Linked DNA regions of Homo sapiens. Changing the gene in region 1 together with any one later gene gives a genetic interaction. Each region holds a gene or a part of one and is shown on either strand. Other genes may lie near its edges.

The links.
Region 2: changes in NAA15 (region 1) and EGFR together harm fitness more than expected from each alone (negative genetic interaction), as found in Homo sapiens cells (one large-scale study listed by BioGRID).

Annotation. Positions count from the first base shown.
Region 1 is NC_000004.12:139,381,361-139,385,185, forward strand, and holds part of NAA15 (N-alpha-acetyltransferase 15, NatA auxiliary subunit), read left to right. Parts: intron 1-3,471; coding exon 3,472-3,618; intron 3,619-3,825. UniProt on the Homo sapiens protein: Auxillary subunit of N-terminal acetyltransferase complexes which display alpha (N-terminal) acetyltransferase (NAT) activity. The NAT activity may be important for vascular, hematopoietic and neuronal growth and development.
Region 2 is NC_000007.14:55,196,817-55,200,641, forward strand, and holds part of EGFR (epidermal growth factor receptor isoform a precursor), read left to right. Parts: intron 1-1,900; coding exon 1,901-2,047; intron 2,048-3,499; coding exon 3,500-3,597; intron 3,598-3,825. UniProt on the Homo sapiens protein: Receptor tyrosine kinase binding ligands of the EGF family and activating several signaling cascades to convert extracellular cues into appropriate cellular responses.

The DNA.
Region 1 (3,825 bases):
TATTCTCCTAACTGCTTTTAAAATTAGCACTATTTGGCTGCCTTGATCTACAGTGAAACTTAGGTCTTTTTCCTCTCCCATTTGCACAAACTCATTTTTCTTTGATCTGCAGATATGTTTTTTATACTTATGTATGTCTCCTCCAACCTTCTTTCATAATCTAATTTGTTTATTAAACCTTGTTTAATACTTACTAAATTATTAAATTTTTTATTTTTTTAAGCTTTGTTTAATTTTCTCATTTATTTTGCCGTTTTTGAGTTGTAATCACTTACTCGGTTGTACTATAACCTAGTAGTGAACAGTCATTACCTCACACAAAATAAGAACATTTTTTACCCAAATTATTAACAATGCCAGCTAGCCTGAGAACCCTGTGCAATCCCTTTTGCTAAGAATCAGCCACCTTTTCATTGTGTGTTTTAACCATTGGTGCTTGCTTAATTTATTCATTCTGTTAATAAGCTAATAGCATGAACCAAACATTCCAGTTTAAGATGTCAAAGGACCCAAATCAAAAACCCCTTAGAAAAGGTTTTATATTCCCCTTCTCGCTCATCAGTTATTACTTTTCCTTGATTCTCAAGACTTATTACTCTTTCATGGAAGGTAATTGAGTTAGTAGGGGATTTGCTACTTTCCTGAGGCCTTGATGTTTTTTGTCAGTTTTACCACATTCAAAGGCTTTTTAGAGTTTTTCTCCCCTGCCCACTAGTCTTTAGCAGTAAATGGACATCTGATAATCTGTGACATATGATGTTGCTCCTTTTCTTAAGGGTACACATAAAATTTCATTACACAGAATTCCATAGGACATTCTGGGTTTTACTGCAGTAGAATTTTTTTATCCTTTTTGTAATTGATATTTTCCTGGAGGTTAACAATTCTAGTTTTCTGGAACTGTAATTTCCAGGAAAATATCCAGAAAAGTTTAGGAGAAAATTAGTAGGCCTCAAACTTTTTGGAATCAGCTGTTAGTGAAGTTATTTGCTTCAGTTTTGGTAGAGTTTTTTTTAGCAGTTTTAATTTTTCTGGGAGATTGTTTAATCTGATTAAAACAAGTTAAAAAAAGATAATGAAAACCATAAAAACCCCTTGCCTACCCCTCTCTTCATCAACTATGATACAAACTATGCAGATATTTTTTACATGTAAAGTATCCTGAAAGCATTTCAGGCAAACCAGCAAGGCCTATGTAAATAATTTTTATTGTACAGAAGATACATTCTTTTTGAGATAATTAATGTCATTGCAGTTGGCTGTAACCTATTTTAATAACTTTTTTCTGTTTCCTCTCTATTCCTGCTTTTCCACTGAAAAACAAGTATTGATAGATTGACAAAACCAAGTTGAAAGTACAGCCATAGTAGAGGTTAAACTAAAGTATTTCACTATAGCTCATTTACTTGAACCACCCAGTTTTATAGAATAATAGAAGAAATGCTATTTAACCAACAAAGAGCATGTCAGTGAATTATTCAGCTAATAATTATGTATAGAATATTTCACTTAGAAAATGTTTCCTACTGAGTTCATTATATTTTTTAAACTTAGATTAATGATCCATTAGCAGGATAGTGGGTCATTACCAGCACTCAAAAACCCAAAATAAAAATAGAATAGTGTAGAAAAGATCAGCATATGTTGCACACAGTAAGTGTTCTGTGAAACTTTTGCTTCACATAAGTTATGGATATGGAATATGTATTTGTCGCAGTACAAATACCTGATTAAAGTGAAAATTTGAAAGTCATCACCATAGTTCCCAGCCATAAGGAAAATCTACGTAATGTTTTCACACTATGATAAAAATAGTAACTATGATTTATTGACTACCTATTACATAATTAGCACTTTTACACAGTAGCTTTTCCTTACTGTAAATCTTTTAGATTAGATATCACCCCAGTTTTATAGATCAAGAAATAGGTTCAGAGAGGTTATGACTTATCCAAGCCTGGATCCATACCCAAGTCTAACTGGCTTCAAAGCTCCAGACTCTCTCTTTATACCAAAATGATAATGAAACAAAGTATAACTTGGATTCAATCCAGAGGAATCATCTCTAAATCCCAAGGCCTGGGAATATGATGACAACAGTGCATTCATTCATTTATGTATTTATTTTGAGACAGAGTCTCACTGTGTCACCCAGGCTGGAATGCAGTGGCATGATCTTGGCTCACTGCAACCTCCACCTCCCAGGTTCAAGCTGTTCTCCTGCCTCAGCCTCCTGAGTAGCTGGGACCACAGGCACACACCACCATGCCAGGCTAATTTTTTTATTTTTAGCAGAGACGGGGTTTCGCCATGTTGGCCAGGTTGGTCTCGAACTCCTGACCTCAAGTGATCCACCCGCCTTGGCCTCCCAAAGTGCTGGGATTACAGGTGTGAGCCACCGTGCCCAGCCTATTTATTAATAGGAAAATGCTTTGGTGGTCCTTGGGAGTTTATTATACAGTGATAGCTCAATTTACATAGTTTCTGAAATAAAGGTCAATGACATCAACCATGTTTTCTTTTGTTTTTAATTGAAACGTGTGCCTTACTTGGGTATAGAGGAAGATAGGGAGGGTGAGGAAAATTTGTTGTCTTCAGCACTACATAGTTGGCTGTGATACTATTTACCAGGTGGGTATTCCCAAGTTGCTGCTTTGCAGACCTTAAGGTTGAGGGGGCAGCTCTAGGGGTTTAGAAGGCTGTGAAACTACTTGTTTTGTCATCTCCTTTGCTTACAGTTCCTTTCTGGAAATGAATCTCGTGTTAATAAAATTATTTGAATGCCTTTAGAACATTAGATTGTTCTGCTGACATACATTCTTTTTAATGTGTATTGCTGGGCATGATGGCTCATGCCTGTAATCCCAACACTTTGGGAGGCCAAGGTGAACAGATCTCTTGAGCCCAGGAGTTGGAGACCAGCCTGGGCAACATGGCGAAACCCTGTCTCTACAAAAAAATAGAAAAATTAGCTGGACGTGGTAGCTTGCACCTGTGGTCCCAGCTTCTCAGGAGGCTGAGGTGGGTGGATCACTGAAGCCTGGGAGGTTGACGCTGCAGTGAGCCATGATTGCGCCACTGTACTCCAGCTTGGGTGGCAGTAAAACCTTGTCTGTCTCAATCAGTCAGTCAGTTTATATAGGTAAGCTCTTTTTGCAAATGTTAAATTATCAGTAGGTTTTATCTTGTCTTTGTATATAATTGCCATGTTTCATTGGCCTCATCATTAGGTAATTTAACTCCTATAGGCTGGGTGTGGTGGTGCACACCTGAAGTCCCAGCTACCTGGGGGGCTGAAGTGGGAGGATTGCATGAGCCTGGAAGGTTGAGGCTACAGTGAGCCATGGTTGTGCCACTGTACTCCAGCCTGGGTGATAGAGCAAGACCCTGTCTCAAACACAAACAAAAATAAACTTTTGTAAACTTTATCAGAGTATTCAACTGCTAAGATTTTATTTTTAATTTATTCAGCAGTGTGTGAAAGTAAAGATTTATCTGATACAGTTAGAACAGTATTAAAACAAGAAATGAATCGTCTTTTTGGAGCAACGAATCCAAAGAATTTTAATGAAACTTTTCTGAAAAGGAATTCTGATTCATTGCCACACAGATTATCAGGTAATCACTTTATTTTATCCTTAGCCTTCTAAAACAACTTCAGTAATTTTAATGAATCAACAATAATATAAGGTACATGTTTTTAGAATGGAAGAGGCAGTGTGTATATGTTACATTGTGATCGTATGAAAACAGGCAGCTTAAATAAGCTTCCTAAGCTGGGCACAGTGGCACATACCGGTAGTCCCAGCTACTCAGGATGCTGAG
Region 2 (3,825 bases), on another chromosome or scaffold:
TGGTTGTAGGTGTGCAGCCTTATTTCTGGGCTCTCTATTCTGTTTCATTGGTCTGTATGTCTGTTTCTGTACTAGTACCATGCTGTTTTGGTTACTGTATCCCTGTAGTTTAAAGTCAGGTAGCATCATGCTTCCAGCTTTGTTCTTTTTGCTTAGGATTGCCTTGGCAATTCAGGCTCTTTTTTGGTTCCATGTGAATTTTTAAATTGTATTTTCTAGTTCTGTGAAGAATCTCATTGGTAGTGTGATAGGAGTAACATTGAATCTATAAAATACTTTGGGCAGTATAGTCATTTTAATGATATTGATTCTTTCTATCCATGAGCATGGAATGTTTTTCCATTTGTTTGTGTCATCTCTGATTTCTTTAAGCAGTGTTTTGTGGTTCTTATTGTAGAGATCTTTCACTTTCCTGGTTTACTGTATTTCTAGGTATTTTATTCTTTTTGTGGCAATTGTGAATTGAATTGCATTCCTGATTTGGTTCTCAGCTTGACTGTTGTTGGCATATTGGAATGCTAATTATTTTTGTACATTGATTTTGTACAACTGAGTCTTCACTGAAGTTGTTTATCAGCTTAAGGGGTTTTGGGTCAAGACTATGGGGTTTTCTAGATATAGGATCATGTCATCTGCAAACAGAGATAGCTGTTTTCCTCTCTTCCTGTTTGGATGTCCATTATTTCTTTCTCTCACCTGATTTATCTGGCCAGGACTTCCAATACTATGTTAAATAGGAGTGTTGAGAGAGGGAATCCTTGTCTTGTGTCAATTTTCAAGGGGAATGTTTTCAACTTTTGCCCATTCAATATGATGTTGGCTGTGGGTTTGCCATAGATGGCTAATATGTTGAGGTTTGTTCTTTAAATACCTAGTTTATTGAGAATTTTAAACATGTTGAATTTTATTGAGAGCCTTTTCTGCATCTATTGAGATGATCATGTGGCTTTTGTCCTTAGTTCTGTTTGTGTGGTGAATCACATTTATTGATTTGCATATGTTGAACCAATCTTGCATCCCAGGGATGAAGCCGACTTGATTGTGGTGGCTTAAGCTTTTTGATGTGCTGCTGGATTCGATTTGCCAGTATTTTGTTGAGGATTTTTATGTCTATGTTCATCAGAGATATTGGCCTGAAGTTTTCTTTTTTTGTTGTATCTCTGCCAAGCTTTGGTATCAGGATGACATTGGCCTCATAGAATGAGTTAAGGAAGAGTCCCTCCTTCTCAATTTTTTTGGAATAGTTTCAGTAGGAATGGTACCAGCTTTTTTTGTACATCTTGTAGAATTTGGCTATGAATCCATCTAGTCTTAGGCTTTGTTTTGGTTGGTAGGCTATTTATTACTGATTCAATTTTGGAGCTCATTATTGGTCTGTTCAGGGATTCAGTTTCTTCCTGAGGTTTTTATTTTTATCAAATGGAACTTAAGCTTTTTCATTTCCAATTTTTTTATGATCTAAAAATGTGCAGTTTACAGCCCTGTTCAGAATCTGCATCTTCCTCATTCTGCAGATACAGGTCCCTCAGAGCAGGTGACTGAGTGTGTATCCTGTCTGGAGCATAATACTTATGCTAGTAGAGTTACTGTTGTCTTTATTGTTAATTACCAAAGTTTACCACTTATCAGTCACTTACTACTTGCTGGGCATTGCACTAAGCATTTCAGTTGTATTATCTTGTTGGGTCCTTACAGCAATCCTGTGAAACAGATACTGCTATTACCCCACTTTATAGAGAGGTAGACTGAGGCTTCCAGCATTGAAGCAAATTGCCCAAGACTACAGAAATGTAGGTTTCTAAACATCAAGAAACAGTAACCAGTAATGATGACTAAAGCAAGGGATTGTGATTGTTCATTCATGATCCCACTGCCTTCTTTTCTTGCTTCATCCTCTCAGGGGTGACTGTTTGGGAGTTGATGACCTTTGGATCCAAGCCATATGACGGAATCCCTGCCAGCGAGATCTCCTCCATCCTGGAGAAAGGAGAACGCCTCCCTCAGCCACCCATATGTACCATCGATGTCTACATGATCATGGTCAAGTGTGAGTGACTGGTGGGTCTGTCCACACTGCCTAGCTGAGCCTTGGTGGCTGCTCTTAGCCAAACAGCTGAGGCCTTTGCATCCCTGGAGAAATGTCATCACATTACTTAAGGCAGGCACACAAATCCAGAAACATCTGTAAATACCCCTTCAAGCATTCTTTTAAAGACACTTCTTGACTCATTGGGCAGTATGACCTGACATTTGCCCATGTTTGCAAGCAAATAAATAAAACTAAAGTCTTCCGCAAGCCATTACACCAAAATATTCTATTCGCTGAGTTACTCAATGAAATACCGAGTTGCCCTATATTTTGAAGCCTGTTACCAGAGAGACTGAATGTTTTTAAATGCATGGCAGTGAGTAACAACATAAGGCTAATAGAGTCAACATTTCTGCTTTGACTTAAACCTTTTAAACCAGTGGATTTATGTGAAGTCTCTGCAGTGTGGCATTTAAACATTTCAATCTAAATAAGAGTGTGTAATTTGATTGATGCTATTATTCTACCAGATTCACGAGTGCAGTGGGCTCTGGAGGTAGCATTACATGCATGGGATGAGCATTTGCAAAAGAAAGTTGTATAGGGAATATGACAGAGCCAAGTTAATGTAAATATTAATGCCTTTCTGAACTCTAGGCCACAGAGTTGATCTTTTTTAACTTCCTTGGTTTGGGCTAAGGAAGCTGTGATCCAGAGAAGCCACGTGATTTGTCTAAGGTCACATAGCAGTCTGGCCTAAAATAGCTTGATATGCTGTGGATGGAAAATAAATGTGATCCCTCAAGAGGCATGAGGATTTCCAGGCAGTAGCCATACCTCCAAATTGTTTAATCTGGATTTAGATTGTTGGGTAGTCACATGCAGCAGCACAGTTAACAGTGTGTCCTCCTGTGGAAGTTGCCAGCACAGCCAGCCCTCTCACTTGCATGCATGCCCACCAGCCTTCTCACTTGCATGCATGCCCACTGGGTATGTGCTGTACTGGAGACGCCGGGGGTAGGGGCCCAGTCCCAACCCCAAATTCTTTAAAGCCTATTTTTCTAAGTTGCATCTGGTTTCCTACCTGAAGGAATGCTAAGGGTGGATGTTGAGTGAGGACCTTGGTGCAGGGCACCCTGCAGTCAGGATAGTTCATGGAGAGCAATTGTACAGACCCACACTGCTCCATCCCCTCAGGCGTAACACAGGATGCTGACCCCAGGAAGAGTGGGCGTAGAAAAACTAGAGGGCATTATTGTTATTCTGATTCAAATGTACAGTGCTGGCATGGTCTTTAAACAGTAACCAGTACTAGCTGGCCAAGACAGAAAAGTCTACCACAAAGACTTGGTTCTTTCATCACTTATTTGACTGGAAGTGTCGCATCACCAATGCCTTCTTTAAGCAATGCCATCTTTATCATTTCTTCCAGTGTTCTAATTGCACTGTTTTTTCTCATTCCTTCCCCAGGCTGGATGATAGACGCAGATAGTCGCCCAAAGTTCCGTGAGTTGATCATCGAATTCTCCAAAATGGCCCGAGACCCCCAGCGCTACCTTGTCATTCAGGTACAAATTGCAGTCTGTGCTTCCATTGGGAAGAGTCCCTCTAATGAGCATCTCATGTCACTGTGTTCTGTCACATGCCAGCCTGGCCTCCCTGTGTCCCAGATCGCATTATTAAACCCTCCAGCGCATTAGAGCAAGCCTCAGTAAGGCGCAGGCCACATCGTGAACTAAGCAGCATCCGTGAGTGGGGCCCACCCAACTCCATCTCCCCCTCCCCGTCTGAACTCT